2 linked regions of the Homo sapiens genome follow. The protein of the gene in region 1 purifies or fractionates together with the protein of each later gene. This does not show direct contact. Each region holds a gene or a part of one and is shown in the gene's direction. Other genes may lie near its edges.

The links. Proteins that work in one complex are often made in the same cells at the same time.
Region 2: the proteins of C6orf136 (region 1) and MPZL1 purify together in Homo sapiens (affinity purification with mass spectrometry; one large-scale study listed by BioGRID and IntAct). This does not show direct contact.

What each region holds. Positions count from the first base shown.
Region 1 is NC_000006.12:30,645,678-30,651,585, forward strand, and holds the start of C6orf136 (uncharacterized protein C6orf136), read left to right. Parts: upstream 1-1,455; 5' UTR 1,456-1,554; coding exon 1,555-2,169; intron 2,170-3,880; coding exon 3,881-4,282; intron 4,283-5,316; coding exon 5,317-5,405; coding exon of another isoform or gene 5,406-5,409; exon of another isoform or gene 5,410-5,423; intron 5,424-5,588; coding exon 5,589-5,789; intron 5,790-5,908. Other genes in the region: ATAT1 (alpha-tubulin N-acetyltransferase 1), read left to right, coding at 218-297, 390-432, 792-966.
Region 2 is NC_000001.11:167,724,591-167,728,489, forward strand, and holds part of MPZL1 (myelin protein zero-like protein 1 isoform a precursor), read left to right. Parts: intron 1-3,899. UniProt on the Homo sapiens protein: Cell surface receptor, which is involved in signal transduction processes. Recruits PTPN11/SHP-2 to the cell membrane and is a putative substrate of PTPN11/SHP-2.

The sequences.
Region 1 (5,908 bases):
CAATAAATCAGAAGCACTCCAGAAAATCTTGGGTATAAAATGAACTTCCCCCGCCCTTTTCTGGGGCACAGCTTTGATTAAAACCTGTTAGGAATGATAATTACCCCCTTCTCTTTGTTCCTGTGCTATTCCTTTTACTCCTCTCCTCTGATTCCTCCATACCCACCCATCTTTCATCCAGTAGCCTCCTCCCCATCATCTCCCATTTCTTCTACAGGGGGACTCCCCCAGGTCTGGTAGCCCAAAGCTGCTGCTACAGCCGCCATGGGGGGGTGAATTCCTCATCCCCCAATACAGGTAAGTATTCACTCCTCCCTACCCTCAAATCAAGTAGGCCACATTCACTGTCTACTCCTGCCTTCCCATTCACATGCCTGATATTTCCACAGGCAACCAAGACTCCAAGCAGGGAGAACAGGAAACAAAGAATAGGTGAGGTCTAAACCCCTCCCCTAACAGCCTCCCACCACCATCTGACTCCCTTCCTAACATCATTCTCAGTCACTTCCTACTCTTAAATCTTATTGTATGAACTGGACACCAGCTCCTCCCACAATTCCTTCTACCTTACATCCTGCAAGCCCCTTTCCCCCACAGGTTCAACTCTGGTACTTCCCTTTGGAATACGGATTCTCTGAGAGGTTTTAAATTTGGACATAGCACTAATGGTTCCAGCTTCATACCCATCATGTGTCCTACATTAAAACCTGGCCCGAGACCTTGAAGAGTCTGTAATCTTAATTTCCTCTTTAGTATTCCTATAACCCACTCTCCATCTCCCCACCTACCAGGTCTGCCAGTGAGGAGCAGGCCTTGTCACAGGATGGGTCTGGGGAGAAGCCCATGCACACAGCTCCTCCACAGGCCCCGGCCCCGCCAGCCCAGTCCTGGACAGTGGGTGGGGACATACTCAACGCCAGGTTCATTCGAAACCTGCAGGAACGTCGCAGCACCAGGCCTTGGTGACCGCAGCCCCGTCAAACATCTTCAAAGTATTATTTCTCCCTCACTACAGGAAAGAGCCAAAGCCCAACCCTCATAATAGATGGATACATTCATTCATTCATTCATTCAGCAGGCTTATCAGATTCAAGTCATTTGTATCTTTTAACCAGACCAATAAAAGTATTTATTTTTATCACAAGAGCTGTTGAAAAATTTGACTCATTATTTCAGCCGCCTCACCCCTCACTGTCGTTGCACCCATTCAGCCTTCAGCCCTGTTTTTGCTCAGCTTTTTGCTCAAAGGCCTCAGCTGTGAATACAGCGCTTGGGGGGGCGGGGGAGGCTGTAACTTGCGCAAGCGCACTCAGGCAGTCTCCGAGCCCGCGGGCGCAGGCGCGCTTACAGCCGACAGAGCGCTTCAGCCGCTTCCCTCGAGCCTGCAGTGCGCAAGCGCGGGACATCTCCGTTTCCCTCCCTCAGCCCCTTCCCCCCCTACCCCCCCGCCCCGGCCTCCTTTCCCCTTCACGAAGCCGGCTCTGGGGCGCGCTCACCCCTGTGAGGAGGCCGGAGGTCGGACTCAGGAGGCTCCTTCTCCACTCCCGGAAGATCATGTACCAGCCCAGCCGGGGTGCGGCCCGGCGTCTCGGCCCTTGCCTGCGCGCCTACCAGGCTCGACCCCAGGTGAGCGGAGGAGAAGAGGGAGGGAGGAGAGGGGGCGGGGAGAGACCCTCCTCAAAGCCGGTGCGTGGGGCGGAGCGCGCGCTGGGTTCCGCGCAGGCGCAGAGACACCCGCCGCCCCTTCCCACCTGTGCCCTGCAGCGCGTGGACAGGCTAGGGGTCGCGGGAGCGGGAGGGAGGCGCTGCCGGGCCTGTCGCGCAAGGACGTCGGTCCTCCCAGGTTTGAGGGCGGTCAGGCGGGGTCAAGGCCAGGCAGCGGGGCGCGTCTGCGTTGCGCCCGACTCTCCGCGGTTACCTGTGCCTAGAGGTGATTTGAAGGGCAGGGGCCGAGAGATTCGTAGCCCTGCTGCGGCGCCGTCCCGGAGTTCCCCGGCCCAGACCAGACCCGCGGGGCGCCCTCAGCAGCCCGCCCGTCTTGCACTCGGAGAGCGGTCCTGGCAGGAAGGCCGGCCAGTGTGCACCCGGTTCGGGCCCCTGCGCCCGGGCTGGCAAGATGGCCACGCCCCCAGCAGAGACGGCGCCTCTAGGACACCATCGGGGACCGAGGTACCCGAGCGGTCCGCCCGCCTTCCCTGCAGTGAGACGATCCCCTGGGGGGTTCCTTGGGAGCGGAGGGACTCGGGTGAGGCCTAACTTTGGGTGACCTCCCCTTGCAGTTTCAACGTCGGTAAACCCAGGAGAGTGAAGGCCAGCCTTTAACTGTCTCCTGAGGTTGTGTCTGTCATTAGAGGGGCCCGAAATGATAATAGCTTCCATTTATGTACTGCTTTCTAGGTCGCTACGTTTTGTTTACATTCATTATTTCATATAGGCCTCATAACCCAGTGAGGCTTTATTGTTCTCATTTATAGGACATTTGTAGGAAGCGGAGGCATAGGGAATGAGAATGCCTAAAGTTACATGATAGAATTCAGATTCCTAGCTTCAGCTGGATATTCTTTTTTCTCTGTACATTTGCCTCGCACACTTAATCATGGAGATGTACAGGCCACAGCATTTAATCCACAGTACAATAAAACCTGTTATTCGTTAACTCATCAAGTATGTATTACATGATTCTTGCGATAAGAGAGGTGAAACTGCCCCCAGTGTTGGAATCTTTTTTTTTTTTTTTTTGAAATGGAGTCTTGCTCCGTCACCCAGGCTGAAGTGCATTGGCACCATCTCGGCTCACTGCAATCTCCGTCTCCTGGGTTCAAGCAATTCTCCTTCCTCAGCCTCCCGAGTAGCTGGGACTACAGGCTCCCGCCACCACACCCGGCTAATTGTTTTGTATCTTTAGTAGAGATGGGGTGTCACCATATTGGCCAGGCTGGTCTCGAACTCCTAGACCTCGTGATCCGCCCGCCTCGGCTTCCCAAAGTGCTGGGATTACAGGCGTGAGCCACCGCGCCCGGCCACATTTCTTTAAGATTCCAACACTGGGCCGGGCACGGTGGCTCACGCCTGTAATCCCAGCACTTTGGGAGGCCGAGGTGGGCGGATTACCTGAGGTCAGGAGTTCGAGAACAGCCTGGCCAACATGGTGAAACCCCATCTGTAACTAAAAATACAAAAATTAGCCGGGCGTGGTGAAGGGTGCCTGTAATCCCAGCTACTCGGGAGGCTGAGGCAGGAGAATGGCTTGAACCCAGGAGGCGGCGGTTGCAGTGACCCGAGTTCGCGCCAATGCACTCCAGCCTGGGCGACGGTGAGACTTCGTCTCAAAAAAAGAAAAAAAAGTAAAATGTCTGCTAGGTTTTGGGAGGTGCCGGTATTTATGTCACATAAAACAGTTTGCTCGGCTGGGCGCGGTGGCCCACGCCTGTAATCCCAGCACTTTAGGAGGCAGAGGCGGGTGGATCACGAGGTCAAGAGATGAAAACCATCCTGGCTAACATGGTGAAATCCTGTCTCTACTAAAAATACAAAAACTAGCTGGGCATGGTGGCGCGCGCCTGTAGTCCCAGCTACTCAGGAGGCTGAGGCAGGAAAATCACTTGAACCCGGGAGGCGGAGGTTGCAGTGAGCTGAGATCGTGCTACTGCACTCCAGCCTGGCAACAGAGCGAGACTCCATCTCAAAATAAATAATAAAATAAAATGGTTTCCTCCTGTTTTCAGTAGAGATGGAGATGAATCCATCCCTTTTTTCCTATAGTAATTCCATCCATTCTGTCAGGAGGAATAGGTATTGGAAGCCTGTTGAGCATCCAGGGGATCAAGGGGTGTTAGACAAGTGGATTCTTATCTTTCTCCCTTCTGTTCTTTCTCCTTAGGACCAGCTTTATCCAGGGACTCTACCATTCCCACCCCTTTGGCCCCACTCCACGACAACCACTTCCCCATCTTCTCCTCTATTCTGGTCTCCCCTGCCCCCACGCCTTCCCACCCAGCGTCTTCCCCAGGTTCCCCCACTACCTCTCCCTCAGATCCAGGCCCTCAGCTCAGCATGGGTGGTTCTCCCTCCAGGAAAGGGGGAGGAGGGACCAGGACCTGAGTTGCATAGCGGCTGCCTGGATGGGCTTAGAAGCCTTTTTGAGGGACCTCCCTGCCCCTATCCTGGGGCTTGGATACCTTTCCAAGTCCCTGGAACTGCCCACCCTTCCCCTGCCACCCCGTCAGGAGATCCTAGTATGGAGGAACATCTGTCTGTCATGTATGAGAGACTGAGACAAGAGGTAAGTCAGTGCAAAAGTGGCCTTCGTCTACAGTGGGAAGGATGTGGGTAATCCTTGGACGTACAGGGATAGTCAACTGGATTCTTTTTTGGAACCATGAGGCAGGCATAGAAATATATTATAAACATTTTCCTGAGAAAATGATGTTCCAGCCAGGCACGGTGGCTCAAAGTGCTGTAATCCCAGCACTTTGGGAGGCTTAGGCAGGTGGATCACCTGAGGTCAGGAGTTCAAGACCAGCCTGGCCAACATGGTGAAACCCCATCTCTACTAAAAACACAAAAATCAGCCAGGCATGGTGGCAGACGCCTATAATCCCAGCTACTCAGGAGGCTGAGGCAGGAGAATCGCTTGAACCCAGGAGGCGCAGTGAAAGGAGATATCTCCATTGTACTCCAGCCTAGGCAACAGAGCGAGACTCCGTCTCAAAAAAAAAAAAAAGAAAGAAAATGATGTTCCTCATTTTGGGTTAAGGGAGGTTAATCATGGGATGAGATCTTTCACTCCAAGATGGGAGTAAGGAGGCCTTAAAAATAGAAAACTGGGCCTGGCACATGGCTCACGCTTATAATCCTAGCACTTTGGGAGGCCGAGGCAGGCGGATCACAAGGTCAGGAGTTCAAGACCAGCCTGGCCAACACAGTGAAACCCCGTCTCTACTAAAAATACAAAAATTAGCTGGGCATGGTGGTGGGTGCCTGTAATCCCAGCTACTCGGGAGGCTGAGGCAGGAGAATCGCTTGAACCTGGGAGGCGGAGGTTGCAGTGAGCCGAGATTGTACCTCTGCACTCCAGCCTGGGCGACAGAGCTAGACTCCATCTCAAGCCTGTAATCCCAGCTACTCGGGAGGCTGAGGCAGGAGAATCGCTTGAACCTAGGAGGCGGAGGTTGCAGTGAGCTGAGATTGTACCTCTGTACTCCAGCCTGGGCGACAGAGCTAGACTCCGTCTCAAAAAAAAAAAAAAATTAGAAAACTGAAAAATAGGATTATCTTTTCTTTCCCACTGGGTTGATGCCATCTTCTTCCACCTAGCTTCCCAAGCTCTTCCTTCAGTCCCACGACTACAGTCTGTATTCCTTGGATGTGGAATTCATCAATGAGATCCTCAACATACGTACCAAGTGAGAATTGGGGCACAGGTAGGGCACTGGGGAGGAAAAGCACCCAAAGGTATATACATGACCCTTTTCACTTCCCAGAGAAGTTCCTAGACTGCTTCTCACAGCTGTTCCCCATTCCTTAGAAGCCAGTTTGGTTTTCTAATTCTGCCATCATGAGATTTCTTTCCCATCCCTTCTTCACAGGGGCCGGACATGGTACATTCTTTCACTGACCCTCTGCCGTTTCCTGGCCTGGAATTATTTTGCACACCTTCGTTTGGAGGTTTTACAGCTGACCCGCCACCCTGAGAACTGGACCCTGCAAGCCCGGTGGCGGCTTGTGGGGCTGCCCGTCCACTTGCTCTTTTTGCGGTTCTACAAGCGTGACAAAGACGAGCATTACCGGTAAGAGAGAAATGAGAAAGGACCCAAACTATAATCAGTTCCTTTTTTTTTTTTTTTTGAGACGGAGTCTCACTCTGTCACCCAGGATGGAGTGCAGTGGCGTGATCTCAGCTCACTGC
Region 2 (3,899 bases), on another chromosome or scaffold:
ATAGGTTTTGGGCTTGGGAAGCTGGGCATATTTTTGGCCTTTTCACAGATGGGGAAATAGGAGTCTTGGGGGAAGAAGATGATGGAGATACTTTTGAATATGTTGAGTTTGAGATGCGGGTAAGACATCCAAATGGAGATGGGCAGAAAACAATTGGATAGACAGTTCTGGAGGTGAGGAGAAAGTTCTGGTTGGAAATGGAGATTTAGAGAGTTATGTGGCTAATAGTTAAAGCTTGGATTGTTTGGATGAGGGCATCCAGGGAAAATGCACTGAAGAACATAGCAGAGAGCCAAAGACGGAGTTTTGGGGTATATGAAACCTGACAAAGAGTCTCTGTGAGTAAGAGAAAAACCAGGTGAGTTTGGTATTTCAGCATTGTCAGATGAAGAGAGATAAAATGTGATAAGAATTCACTGAATTTGGTAATTGAAATGAGCACATAGTATATGAGGACTAAATCTCAGTAATTTGTACCATCCATGTCAGTAAATGGAACCTCCATACATCTAATTGTGCAGGCCAGAAACCTAGGGTCCATCCCTGATTCTTCCCTGTCCTTCACATCCAATCAGTTCTCCCATCTTTAAAATGCATCTGGAATTGATGTTTTTTCTACCTCCACTCCTAGCCTTTTAGTCAAAGTCACCACCATTTCTTGCCTATATTACTGTGATAGCCTCCCAGCTGCTCTTCCTCTTTTTCCCCCTCTGGAGTCTTGCTCTGTCTCGCCCAGGCTGGAATGCAGTGGCACAATCTCGGCTTACTGCAACCTCCATCTCCCAGATTCAAGTGATTCTTCTTGTGCCTCAGCATCCCAAGTAGCTGGGACTACAGGCATGCACCACCATGCCTGGCTAATTTTTGATTTTTCTATTTATTTTTAAATTTATTTTATTTATTTATTTTTTGGGGGATGGAGTCTCGCACTGTTGCCCAGGCTGGAGTGCAGTAGCGTGATCTCGGCTCACCACAACCTCCACCTCCCTGGTTCAAGCGATTCTCCTGCCTTAGCCTCCCGAGTAGCTGGGACTACAGGCGCATGCCACCATGCCCAGCTAATTTTTGTATTTTTTAGTAGAAACTGGGTTTCACTATGTTGGCCAGGCTGGTCTCGAACTCCTGACCTGGTGATCCACCCGCCTTGGCCTCCCAAAGTGCTGGGATTACAGGCGTGAGCCACCACATCTGGCTGATTTTTTTATTTTTAGTAGAGACAGGGTTTCACCATGTTTGCCAGGTCTGGAACTCCTGACCTCAAGTGACCGGCCTGCCTCAGCCTCCCAAAGTGCTGGGATTACAGGCATGAGCCACCACGCCCAGTACTCATCTTGGTTCGTTTTAATCCATTCTTCACAAAACTGCAAGAATGATTTTGTTAAAATGCAAATCAGATCATGTTGCCTTCTTTTTTAAAATCCTTAATGGCTTCCCATTGCACTTGGAATGAAATCTAAACTTCCCATGGCCTGAAAAGCTCTTTGTGATCTGGTTTCTGCTTACCTCTATGACCTCAACTTGTACCACCCACCACCCCTTTCTCACTATATTCAAGCCACACTGCCATCTTTCTGCTCTGTGACACTCATTCCCACCTCCTAGCCTTTGAACTAGCTGTTCTGATGTTGCCCAGGGCTGGCTCCTTTCCATCACAGAGGCTCTAAGTTTCACATCTTTAGAGAGGCCTCTCTGACCACCTTATTCTAGGGTACTTACCTGTTACTATTTGCTGGTTTGCCGTTTACTTCCTTATTGTAATTTCTATATGGTTTTTCTTCTCTTTTTTTTCCTCCATCAGAATCTGGGACAGACAAATCATCTGTCTTGTTTATAGAAGTATTCCTAGTGCTTAACACAGTGGATATGGTAGATGCTAAAAATATTTGTTAAATGGCAGTGAGGCATAGGCATGTCTTGACAACAGTTTGTTAGGAGTTTGCAATATGTAGTTATGATTTAGCATGGTATAGTAGGTCCTCAATATGTGTTTATGCAAGAAGAATATTTTTCCAAAGTGTGATTTCATGCACTGCTTATTTCTCATTATCAGTTCCCTTGGCCTTTTACTTATTTACTAGTCAGGATAGTAAAATAGAAACTTAGTCTTATAAAATATGTATATTTTTTACTCCAACTCCAGGATATCCACTAGGCTTAGATGCTGCCAAAAGAAAAAGATAAATGTTAAGTGAAAGACAGCTATGTGCAAAAGAACATAAAATGCAAGTTTGTGTTTTCATTAAGTCTAATTTATTTACTTATTCAACGTAAATGAACACCTACTGGGCACAAGGCACTGTTTATGTATGGGATGCAGCAGGGAGCCTAGATGCTAGTGAGAAGTGACAGACAGGAAACATCTACTCAAATAAATAATACCAAAGGACAGATTAAATTCCCAACAATCACAACTTTTAAGAAAATATGATTGATCTAATATGAAAATTTGCAGCAAATTTTTGAAAAATGGAACATCTTATTTGTATTATAAAATATTTTTAAAACTTATAAGGGATATGTTATAGGGTTTCTTTAAAGATTGGTCTTTCCCACTGAGTTTTAAAAACATGATTTAATTGGGAAAAACATAGCTTTTCAGAAATATTGCTGTTTCCCCTCTATCCAGTAGATGCTGGTCTACCTACTAAATATTTCTCACCATCCACTTTGCATCCACACTGGAGCTAATATAGTACAGCCACAGTCATGTCTCTACTGGATGATTAGAGCCTTCTAACTGGAGCCTGACTGTTTTTGAGTTATATCTTTTATCTGAGAATTTGAATTATTTGTGTAAGACATACATCTCATGTGTACCTCAACCTTGGAAAGATTTTTAATCTTGCTCTCTAAGACCACAGATGTCATTTTAAAAGGGAGAGTAAAATGGTAAGCTTTGGCATATAATTTATTATAGATTAGTCTTTAGCCCCATCGAAGACGGTATAATTATTAGAAGAACTAGAAGCATCTCCTGAGGTCTCAAGTGTCATATGGCTCTGAGACTTGACCCCTAAGGCTGGTGATATTAAGCCTTCATGTATCTTGAATGATATTCCTTTTTTCCTTTTCCACTCTTACTTTGCTAAGTCGTTTGACATTAGCAGTGCCCTAGAGTCCAGACAAAAGTCTTTGGAATTTTTGCTGCCGTAAGAAAGCAGAGGTCAGTTGGCTCCGTTCACCATAGTGCATAAATTGAGAAATTGTGGTTGTCTCCTGGGATCTTTATATCTTTGCCTTTAAACCCCTTTGTTTATTCATTATCTTTTTTCTTTCTTTTCCTTTTTTTTTTTTTTGAGACAGAGTCTCGTTTTGTCGCCCAGGCTGGAATGCAGTGGTGCAACCTCGGCTCACAGCAACCTCTGTCTCCCAGGTTCAGTGATTCTCCTGCCTCAGCCTCCCAAGTAACTGGGATTACAGGCATAAGCCACCACGCCCAACTAATTTTTTTTTTTTTTTTTTTTCTGAGGCAGAGTTTCACTCCTGTTGCCCAGGCTGGAGTGCAGTCGCGCCATCTCGGCTCATTGCAGCCTCTTCCTCCCACGTTCAAGCGATTCTTCTGCCTCAGCCTGCCGAGTAGCTGGGATTACAGGTGCCTGCCACCACGCCTGGCTAATTTTTTTGTATTTTTAGTAGTGATGGAATTTTGCCATGTCGGGCAGGCTGGTCTCCAACTCCTGACCTCAGGTGATCCACCCAAAGTGCTGGGATTACAGGCGTGAGCCACCGTGCCCTGCCCAAATTTTTTTTCTTTTTTTTCTTTCTTTCTTTCTTTTTTTTTTTTTTTTTGTATTTTTAGTAGAGATGGGGTTTCACCATATTGGCCAGGCTGGTCTCGAACTCCTGACCTCAGGTGATCCACCCGCCTCGGCCTCCCAAAATGCTAGGATTATAGGCAT